Regions from separate parts of the Homo sapiens genome. Here region 2 is linked to region 1. The links come from fine-mapping of genetic effects on gene expression. A gene starts in region 1. The other region holds a variant in brackets. All regions are shown on one strand. Distances are between the middles of the regions. Region 1 holds the start of SLC7A6 (solute carrier family 7 member 6). Region 2 overlaps SLC7A6 (solute carrier family 7 member 6).

Region 1 (5,368 bases):
TGGGTGACAGAGTGAGACACTGTCTCCAAAAAAAAAGAAAAAACCCACCACAATTACTCTTTATAAAGAATTGTAATATAAATAAATGTATAATTTATTTTTATAATAAATTACAGTGTTATTTAATATGTAATACTAAAGAGTTGTTAATTATGTGTAAGCCATTCTGTTTACTAGTATTGTATTCACACTGTATACAAGTAAAAACTCTTTGTAAATCACACAAACAAAAGAAAAGACAGCGCAACAATATTCACCTGTCAAGAAATACGCGAACATCACACTTTCATAAGCCACCTCCTCATAAATGGGTCCAGTACTGAGAAGGAAATGAAGTCCCCTGCAGCAAGGCCTAATTCCACTTGTCTGCCTCGGCCACATAAACTCTGCAACAAAGAGTGGGAGGGAACTGATCAAAAAATGAACTCTTTTAACCTGAGAAAGCTGATTTAAATATATATATATATGTAATTATTTTTAATTAACCAAGAAAGCAGCAGAATGATATTTCCTTGTAAAATCTAAATTTTACATGCCCGGCAGGGGCAGTCCTAATTACTAGCAGGTTCCATGACACCCACAGGGTGGGTATAACTGAAGTAGCCAGCCCAAACCTGTCAGAGAACTGGCCTTGTCACATTAAATCATGTAAGTCTAGGCAGCTCTGGGGCCCCAGGTCCCGTGGGCACCGTTTACATAACTTTTTTTCTTTTTTTTTGGAGATGGAGTCTCGCTCTGTTGCCCAGGCTAGAGTGCAATGGCGCAATCTTGGCTCACTGCAACCTCCGCCTCCCGGGTTCAAGCCATTCTCCTGCCTCAGCCTCCCGAGTAGGTGGGACTACAGGTGCCCACCACCACACCTGGCTCAATTTTTGTATTTTTAGTAGAGACGGGATTTCACCATGTTAGCCAGGATGGTCTCGATCTCCTGACCCCGTGATCCGCCTGCCTCGGCCTCCCAAAGTGCTGGGATTACAGGACTGAGCCACCGCGCCCGGCCTGCATAACTTTTTTAGAAACTAATATACATCCAAGAAATTACAGCAGGAAGCACAAAGGTCAGGAAATTTCTTCTACTAAGAAGTTCCAGGGAGATGGGGATCATAAAACCGGTATATGCAATAAAAATACATCCACGGCCAAATAGGGAAGGAGGACAAGGAGAGGAAGAGAGGAGAAAATCAGGCTGGTGGTTTTCCACACACTTGCCAGGAAAATAAACTCCAGTGTAACGACTTGAATAACGATCTGAGATCAAAGTTGGGAAGCAAAAGCCGTCTGCGCAGCACACATGGGACCTGAGTAATGCAGGCAGCCTGGGCAGGTCCCCAAAAGGCCTCACCGCCACCAAAAAGAGGTGGAACTGATATAAGGAAGTACTCACAGCCTTTCAAGTCTGCTCCTCCCAGATCTGAAATCTGGGAGCAGTTCTGAGAGACAAGCCCCGGATGGCTGGGCACTGAACAGCCGCCCTGCGAGATGAGCTGCCCTGGCTTTTTCCCCTATCAAGGGCAGAGACTGAATTCTTTTTAACTGTGTCACCAAGCCCAGGGCATACAAGAGGTACTCAAAAACGTGTTCGCCGACACCCTGATTCCTATTTATACTGACCATTACACAACATGTTTGCTTAGAGCCCAGCAAAGAATTTTCAGAATGTTTCACGTCTATCTCCCCACATTCAGGAGAGATAGTCACACAAGATGACAGGCTATAGGGACGCTCAAAAGAGCCATAATCACCAGGGGCACGCGGGTTCCCCAGCGCCAGCAGCCCAACGCTCCAGGCTCCAGCACGCCACAAAACCTTGCGGCATTCTCTAAAGTAAAAGGACTGATTTTAAAATGATAATCGTCATTCTTGCGACAGCCCCAGGAAGCCTGGCTCCTGAGGTCCTGAGCCCGCGTCTTTCTTTGCCCCACCGCGGCCGCCACACAGCACAGGTTCTCCGTCCTGCAGTCGGAGGCGCAGTCACAGCCCCACTCAGGGTCACCGTCGCACAGTCTCACGCTCGCGGCGCGGCCCGCGCACTCAGCGTCCCGGTCACCCTCGCACCTGGGGTTTCCCTCTCCACACACACCCCCGGTCTCCCTCACACTCGCCGCGTCGCCAGCACACCCCAAGACTGGCTCCCTCGCGGTCACCATCAGCCTCCGGGGCTCGCACCCATACAGCGTTTCTCCCACACTCGGCCCTCACGCTCGAGGTCCCTCTCTCCTCGTGGCGCCCCCCCTCACCCGCAGCGCCTCTCGCGCGGCCCCGATCGGCCAGCCCCGCGCTGTTTCTGGGCCGCATCCCGCTCCCGACGGCGGCAGCGAAGACCCACAGGGTTCGGCTCCCACAGAACGCGGCCCAGCCCCGGCCCCGCTCCCGGCGCGCCCGCCCATGGCCCAGCCCGTTACCTCCCAGTGGCCCGGCGCCGCCAGGATGCTCGGTCGCGCCGCCGCCGCCGCGGCAGCTCAGGCCCCGCCCCGCCACGTCACCCGCCGCCGGATCGCGACAGCGCGCGCCGCGTCGGGACACAGTTCCGTGCGGGGCCAGCTGGCGGCGGCGCTTCCGGGCCCCCGTGGCCGCCACGGCCTGGCCGGTACGGGGTCCGCCGGCCCAGAACGTGAGCGTGGACGCCAGACAGCCCCCAGCTGCCTCGTCAGGGCTCGAGCAGCCCGTGAACTGGGCCCGGCCACGCTCGCCGCCCTGGAGTTAGATGGGGCCTCCGAGGGCGTCCACAGCGGACATTCCCGCGGGGAGCTCTCATCGGCCCCCGCACCCCGTTCCTATCTCGCACTTGACCTGGGCCCGACGCCCAGGGCGCCCCCTACAGCTCACACAGGGATCCAAACGGCCTCCGCCGCCGGGCCACTGCCACTCGCAGTCTAGGAACCCCAGGAAGACACACACTCTGGGGACTTGTCCAAACACACGCACAGCTCAGACTCGTAGCCCTTGAGGCCCCCGCACCCACAAAGAAACTGCAGGCTCCCTTTGCCAACCCCAGGCCTCCCTGGGGCTCTGTCCTCATCTTCCCAAGAGGGCTGCCACCCCTCTTGGGGGAGCTGCACCTCCTGCCCCCCCTCTTGGGGGAGCTGCACCTCCTGCCCCCTTCCCCTCCCTCTGTTTGCTCCTCCATCTTTCTCTCGAGTTCCTTTTCCTCTGGTGGCTCTGGGGCTCTCTGTCTAGAGCCTCCTGACCTCATGGGCGCCTGAGCCCTCCTCCGAAATTTCCTGTCCACACCTCAAGCACTGACTTTCTCCAGGGCCCTGGAATCTTTTCCCCCAGCCTTATGACCACAAGTACACGTCCTCTGGTTCCAGACCATACCCAAGACCCTGCTCCCTGCCACCCAGTGACAGGGACCCAGCCAGAGATGGGTAGCACCTCAGACCCTTCCTCCCCACTCCTCCCACGGCCTATACCTCGTTTTCTTCTCCCCAGCCACAACGGCTTCTCAATCCCTATCCTGCTCCCCTTACCCCATCTCCACAGAGTAGGGGATGCTCCTAGAATACAGATTGCGATGACTTTGTATCTCCCCTGCCTAAAACCCTTCCATTCTCCTCTCTGCAGGCCTGGGATGACAATACTTGAGGAATCCTCGCTGGTGCTGCCCTCCTGCCCTCTGCTTGGAACCCCTCCCCTAAGTGTCAGTGAGTGGACGTATATATTTGGATCAATCGAGTTGCACCCTTTGCCTCCCAGATCAGTTCCTCCGGCCTCCCTGGCTGAGCAGAAGGACAGCTCTGGACACTTGTGTCAGCACCCAGCCCACGTGTCCCTGCCACAGCTTCATATAAGGTATGCCGGCTCAGCCGGGCCTGGTGGCTCACGCCTGTAATCCTACAACTTTGGGAGGCTGAGGCAGGCAGATCACCTTGAGGTCAGGAGTTCGAGACCAGCCTGACCAACATGGAGAAACCCCGTCTCTACTAAAAATACAAAATTAGCCGAGTGTGGTGGCACATGCCTGTAATCGCAGCTACTCAGGAGGCTGAGGCAGGAGAATCGCTTTAACCCAGGAGGCAGAGGTTGCAGTAAGCCGAGATCGCGCCATTGCACTCCAGCCTGGGCAATAAGAGCGAAAGTCTATCTCAAAAAAAAAAAAAAAAAAACACCATATGCCAGCTCCGTCTGGCTTTGCAGTCTCATACCCAGTTACGTAGCCCATCAGCTGAAAGCCCAATGTACACCACACCCTGAATCAGATGTTCTCCAACACCATCAGTGTTCCTCAGGACCACCCTGCAGGATACATTTATTTGTAACCATTCTTTTCTTTTGCTTTTAGAGATCTTGCTGTTGCCCAGGCTGGAGTGCAATGGCTATTCACAGGTGTGATCATAGCTCACTGCAGCCTCGAACTCCTGGTTTCAAGCGATCTTCCTGCCTCAGCTTCCTACTTGGGACTACAGATTTATTTCATCTTTTTTTTTTTTTTTGAGATGTATCTCGCTCTGTCTTGCTCAGGCTGGAGTGCAGTGGTGCCATCTTGGCTCACTGCAGCCTCCGCCTCCCAGGTTCCAGTGATTCTCCTGTCTCGGCCTCCAGAGTAGCTAGGACCACAAGGCATGTGCCACCACACCTGACTAATTTTGTATTTTTAGTAGATATGGGGTTTCACCATGTTGGCCAGGCTGGTCTTGAACTCCTGACCTCATGTGATCCACCCTCCTTGGCCTCCCAAAGTGCTGGGCTCACAGGCGTGAACCATGGCGCCCGGCCTATTTCACCTTTAGAGATAAAGTCTTGCCCAGGCTGGTCTCAAACTCCTGGGCTCAAGCGATCCTCCCACCTTAGCCTCCTGAGTAGGTGGAACTATAAGCGTGAGCCAATGCACCCAGATGTCCCCATTCTTTGGATGAGGAAACTGAGGGTCAGGAGGCTCCCCAGACAACTTGGCTGGAGCTAGTAGAGCTGAGATTTGAACCCTAGTATGCTGATCCTTAAGCCTCCTCTGATTCCATGCCCTTTCTCTCTGCAGCTATGAAACTGAGGGTGATGGTGAAGCTAAAATGGGTCAGGGATGAGTGGGGTGCCATGAGTAGGGGGGTGTCAGGGCCAAGCAGGGAGTCAGGTTGGGCAGGGCCTGGGGTGAAGCTCCCTTTCATGTTGTCATCCTTTTACTGAGGCCAGAGCTGCAGCTGGACCCCAGTATTTTTACCACAGGCATTTTTACCCCCACTCTGGGTCACCTCGTCCTTCCAGGTTTGGCTAACAGGTGGTTCAGTGAGAGGGTTCAGGGCGCCCTCTTGTGGCCCCTGGTGTATCAAAGTCTGGCGCCCCAGCTTGTGGGGCTGAGTTAAGACAGAACTGGGTACCGGCTGGGCTCTGGACTACAAAATTCAGGCTGGGACCCTATCCCCTATCCATGTTT
Region 2 (5,368 bases), 32 kb before region 1:
ACTTGTGCAGCCTGCTGAAGAGCCGGACTCAGGTTGAAGCAGCTTTCCTCCCAGTCTTCACTGATCTCCACAGGGAGAAAACAGAAGTCCCCACAAGTACCAAGCTCTTCCTGAGACTGCAGCCACCACACCTCGGGGAAGGGGAGGCTGGCAGGAGAGGAGTACACTGTCCCGGTGACCCACACCAAGGTGGCTCCAAGTGTAAACAAAGCCTGGTGCCAGGGACAGAAGAGGATGCAGCCTGATGTGAGGTTTTCAGAAAAGTGAAATGACCTAGCACCAGGTTGGGATTGCTTGGGTCTGCACAGCAGTCCCTCACACTGCCCTTACAGAGAGGAACAGGTTATTTGATGACTTGGGCCCATGAGATGTTCTCCAAGCCATTGACAGCTGAGAGAATTCAGGTGATCCACCTGAATATCAGAAGTTTCAGCCCTCTTAGAGTTCGTAACAGAAACCCAGAGATTTACTGTCAGCTAGAACAAAGATGTAAGGTCTCAAGTAAAATAAAGGATTGTCCTTCAAAACAGCAATATTAACAGACTTCTGACTCAGGAATTTGTTCATCTGTCCTTGCTGGACCTGAGCCAAGTGCTTGTAACGTGATCTATGATCTATCTGTATGCTAAAGTGTAACAGGTACGTGAGTAAAAAAATCTTTAAGGTTCATTGTTGCAGGTAAGACTCAATAGAAATTGTGCTAAACAGCATAAAACCTGTGGTCAGAGTCTGACCCAATACCACAGACATTTCTGAGCCCAAAGGGACTCAGTTTTGGGTACTTTGATTTTTAAATACAATCAGCCTATTGCATCCTGTAGATGAAGAGACACGCATGCTTCGTTAGAACTGGTGTTCTGGACTAAATATCAATAAATAAGGGAATATAACTCTCTCCCCAGGGAAGAATTTTGAGCCAGAGGAAGAAATGGTAGCATTTCAGGCCTTTAAAGTCAGGTGTTGTACCTGGTCAGAGAAAAACTTCCCATAAAGCAGCCCCTCTATAGGGACTCCTAGTTCAAATACCAAATTCAGAAGCCACCAGCCCTATCAACCTAGCATTCCCTCTTCCCCACTGCACTTTACCAAGTAAATATCTGTAAGAGCTGCATCTACCTATCAGGAGTAAAACTAAATGACCATTCCCCCCGTTCCCCAATCTTCCCCCCACCCTCTGAAGCCCCCACCTTGAGGTTGGCCCAGATCCTGAGTCTCCTATAGCTTACCAATAAGAGTGAGCACTGGCCCTGAGCCCCACTATATGATTGGGTCAAAAGGCTCCTTTAATTCAGGAGAGTTGGGCCCACAGAGTCTTGTTATCAGGATTTTGCTGGTTGGCCTGCCTTCCAGGCCTCAGAAAGCCACCTCTGACCTCTAGTCAGTTTTCCTCTCATCCTTTTTTTCTTCGGCTACATCAAGCTCAGTCAGGACACAAAAGCAAAGCTGCTGGGTGCCTCTGGTGATAGCAGCTAAATGAAAATAGAGCAAGCACAGGGTTTAGTAAACATCTAGCTACAGCCCTAACCTGAACAAGGCTGACTAGTAACATCTATGGCTCCCTCGCCACCTGCCCCTTAAGTACCCTATATCAGGCTTTGCCCCTGTCTCCCAACAAGCCTCATCATCCTCTGTCCCATGCCCAACCAGAGTCTGATGCACAACTCATCTTCCCAGGTGATTTGTGTTGTCAGGAGGTAATGTTTTAGCCCCAAAATAGGACACTAAAATTAGAACTAAAGTGATCATGTCAAAATCAAAAGGGAAGTCGTGGACAGCTGGGTCACATGGCCTCCAGCAAATTCTGAGTATGGGGAAGCTGTTAGCCACCCCCCACCTCTGCATGCGCATGCACACATAGCCGCCAGTGAGTAATGGGGCACAGAGAAGCTCACCCAGGACATTCCGAATAAACAATGGCCTCCGGGACTCTGGCAGGTAAACACCCATGAAGTAGAAAGGGACTCCAGAAAGGGCAATCCCGATGCCAATGAGGGAATTAATGGTGTCAGTGAAGAGGGGCACTATCACCAGAAACACGGAGCATATGCAGAACACGATGGGGAAAAACACGCTCAGCTGAAATAGAGGGGGTGAGAGATTAAGTAACGTGGGAAGAGGAAACAGCTCGTGGGCAAGAAGCCACCTTAGGGAGATGGCCCACCCCTCCTAGTCTGGCCAGAGCTGCTGACCTTGAGAGGCCGGGGCCGCTTGGGCTCCTTCCAGCGGAGGTAGAGCTGTCCAACAACAGACAGGCCCACGAAGAACCAGTAGCTGAAGCTGAAGTAGTTGATAAGCTGGAAAACATCCTCCACGATGAGGTAGATGAGTGCCATGGTGCACTGTGGGAAAGGGGTGGGGAGACAGGTGAGCATCGTCACCACCTGCGCCCCCAGGAGACTCCCCCACCCAGCAGTCAGTACTAGATCTGATGCCACTTCACCAGATTACCTCTGGCTCTTTTCATTGACCCCTTGGCATCAGATAGGTCCATTCCTTGATGTACCCTGAGGTACATTAACCCTCAGGGTAGCATCTTTCCCCCTTCTGTTGCAGCCCTTCCTCCACTCAATGCCTCCCCCTTGTTGCAAGCACTTTAGAAAAAGGCAGA[C/T]GCTGAGGCCCTCCTCACTTCAGTGCAGCAACCTTAACATGGATTACACGGTGTCCTAGAGAGGGGTTAGACCTGGGTCCCGACTGCCTGGCATACAAATGGGGGAAACGCCTTCAGAACCATCTCACTGTCCTCAGGCCTGAGAAATGCTAACTAGCAATTGGATCCCTACCCATCTGGACTAAATAATGTCAATAAATAATGGAATCTAACTCTCTCCCCATGGAAGAATTTTGAGCCAGAGGGAGAAATTGTAGCATTTCAGGCCTCTGAAGTCAGGTGTTGGACCTGGAAACTAGCAAAATGGATCCATCCAGACATAAGACAGCATTAGCTTCTGGAACAAAAGAATCCTAGAAGGCAAGGATTAGGGCCTAGGGTCCTGGGACAAGGTCAAATGTGTTTAAACTTCAATAATCTTTTCATTACAAATTATCAACAAAGGATTTAAAACCAAATAGCTCATTCTGTGGAGATAAGGGAGAACCCTGTATTAAGAAGAGAAGGCTGGGCGTGGTGGCTTGTGCCTATAATCCCAGCACTTTGGGAGACTGAAGTGGCAGCTCACTGGAGCCCAGGAGCTCAAGACCAGCCTGGGCAACATAGTGAGACCTCATCTCTACAAAAAATAAATTAGCCAGGCCTGGTGGTGTGTGCCTATAGTCAGATAACCTCCTAAATTTATAAATTCAATGCTGGCCCTGTCAAAATATCAAGAGAATTTTTCTCTTACTTTGATGAAATGATAGAAAAGTTCATCAAGACAAATAAACGAATATGAGAATTGCTAGGAAAATTCCAAGGGCGGGGGGACTAAAGAAGTACCCTTGGTCCCTCTTTAGTTTTCAGATAGTCAGTATAAAGCTAAACTAAGGAGACTTGGTGCTGATGGGGAGGATTAGTTGAGATGGCACATTTAAGGGGCATACAATAATAATTGGCACATATTAAGGACCCTAAAAAAATTAGCTATTAATTTTCTGTGATAAAAGTTTGAAAACTGTGGGAAAATGGATTGTTGAGTGAGCGATATTGGTATAGCTGGCTGCCATTCGAGAAAAAATTAAGTGAATCCCCACCTTTCTCAATACTATGCTATAATATAAATTCCAGATTAATCCAAAATTAAACGTAATAAAACCATAAAAGAATTAAATGACAACAAAAAATGAACTGTTTTTCACATCTTAGAGTAAGGCCTTTCTCAGGGTCCCTCTTATTTAACAACTTAGCACAAATCAGAAGGAGCAATGCACAGATCCACCTGAGCCCCGTGGTCCCAGCAAAGCTTACATTGAACAGTAAAGCAGGGATAGGTGTAAAACGCTCAATGTGGATCATGGACAGAAGGTCCGGTAGGTGGCCCTCCCGGGAGCCCACGAAGAACAACCTAGAAGGATGAGAAATGTGTCAGCAGGATCCTTTACTCCTTTTACTCAGCCATACTCACTCCTCACTTGGACAAACTCAGCTCAGAGCCCCCGAGGAAAGCAGGATGCAGCCTCCCAGGAGCATCCCAGGTCCTTAGTGCATCACCAGTCCAACCTCCCTGCTCCCCCCTTCCCTACAGATTTTCCCTCCCTCTTCATCCCCGGGCACCTCACCACTACCCAGATGCCCCACCCACCATCACCCAGATACCCCCTCTTCTCTCAGCCACAGATACCTCACCAACATCCAACAGATGCCTCACCCTGCTGTCACCCACTAACAGACTCACCCAATCCATGCCAGATTCATAGCTAACATAATAGCTTTTAAAGGGCAGCCAGATTTCTGTTCATGCCCTCCATATATTTTCCCTGAGCTGATGTAAGGCAAGACTGAGGGTCAGAGAGACAACCCAGGCTTCCTTTCTACACCTAAAGAGCTCTACCGACTGGGAAAAAGACTGGCACAGCGTCCAGGCATGGTGGCTCATGCCTATAATCCCAGCACTTTCGGAAGCCGAGGCAGGTGGATCACCTGAGGTCGGGAGTTTGAGACCAGCCTGACCAACATGGATAAACCCTGTCTCTACTAATACAAAATAAGCCGGGCGCGGTAGCACATGCCTGTAATCCCAGCTACTCGGGAGGCTGAGGCAGGAGAATCACTTGAATCCAGGAGGCGGAGGTTGCAGTGAGCCGAGATCGCACCATTGCACTCCAGCCTGGGCAACAAGAGTAAAACTCCATCTCAAAAACAAACAAAAAAAGACTGGCACAGAAATGAACTGTCCCCAGCATGGTCAGCATCACCTTGGAGTACACGACACTCACTCGCTAGGCTTGAGGCTTGTGCCAAAATGCTTTGCAAGAGGAGAGATGCAAAGAAGAGTTTCCAGAAGCAAGTCGGTAGGTGGAAAAAACGAGCATGTGCATAGGCAAAATGTGTGGAGGTATGAAAGAGCGTGGCCTCTTTGGAGGTTGATGTAGAATGCCTAGAGCCCCAGGACAAGCTGTGTGAGAAGAGGGTGCTGGGAAGAACCTGCATACAAGGCCACACTGTGGAGTCTGAACAAACACAGTCAGCTGTGGCTTTGAGGTAAGGGCCTGACGGGATTTGACACCAGACTGGAGAGCAAACTAGAGCAGGGGGAGGCTAGGGTGTCAGGGAAAGGCTAGAAAAGAAGTCCATCTATCACAACTAGGCTGAGCAGAGGGAAGGTGACACTACTTTTTTTATTTTTGAGATGGAGTCTCGCTCTGTAGCCCAGGCTGGAGTTCAATGGCGCGATCTCGGCTCACTGCAACCTCCGCCTCCTGGGTTCAGGCAATT

The links. PIP is the estimated chance that this variant, and not a neighbour inherited with it, causes the effect. A credible set is the group of variants that fine-mapping cannot tell apart.
Region 2: its variant is the best candidate, but not a certain one, in a credible set for the expression of SLC7A6 in whole blood (INTERVAL, PIP 0.88).

The regions. Positions count from the first base shown.
Region 1 is chr16:68,261,611-68,266,978 of GRCh38, reverse strand. It overlaps SLC7A6 (solute carrier family 7 member 6), which reads right to left and starts at 2,453. Exons shown (of 11, transcript NM_003983.6): 1 at 2,403-2,453; 2 at 258-386. It overlaps LOC124903704 (a long non-coding RNA gene), which reads left to right and starts at 2,522. Exons shown (of 3, transcript XR_007065096.1): 1 at 2,522-2,611; 2 at 3,565-3,792; 3 at 4,283-4,318. RefSeq lists an enhancer at 716-1,915 and a silencer at 2,288-2,567.
Region 2 is chr16:68,293,335-68,298,702 of GRCh38, reverse strand. SLC7A6 (solute carrier family 7 member 6) reads right to left here. Exons shown (of 11, transcript NM_003983.6): 8 at 3,902-3,998; 9 at 2,190-2,339; 10 at 1,893-2,076; 11 at 1-1,469. The coding sequence ends at 1,375. It overlaps SLC7A6OS (solute carrier family 7 member 6 opposite strand), which reads left to right. Exons shown (of 5, transcript NM_032178.3): 5 at 1-669. Among named protein-coding and RNA genes, the nearest start is that of SLC7A6OS, 15 kb to the left of the region's middle. RefSeq lists a silencer at 423-717. The variant C/T (reference allele first, on the strand shown) is at 2,609.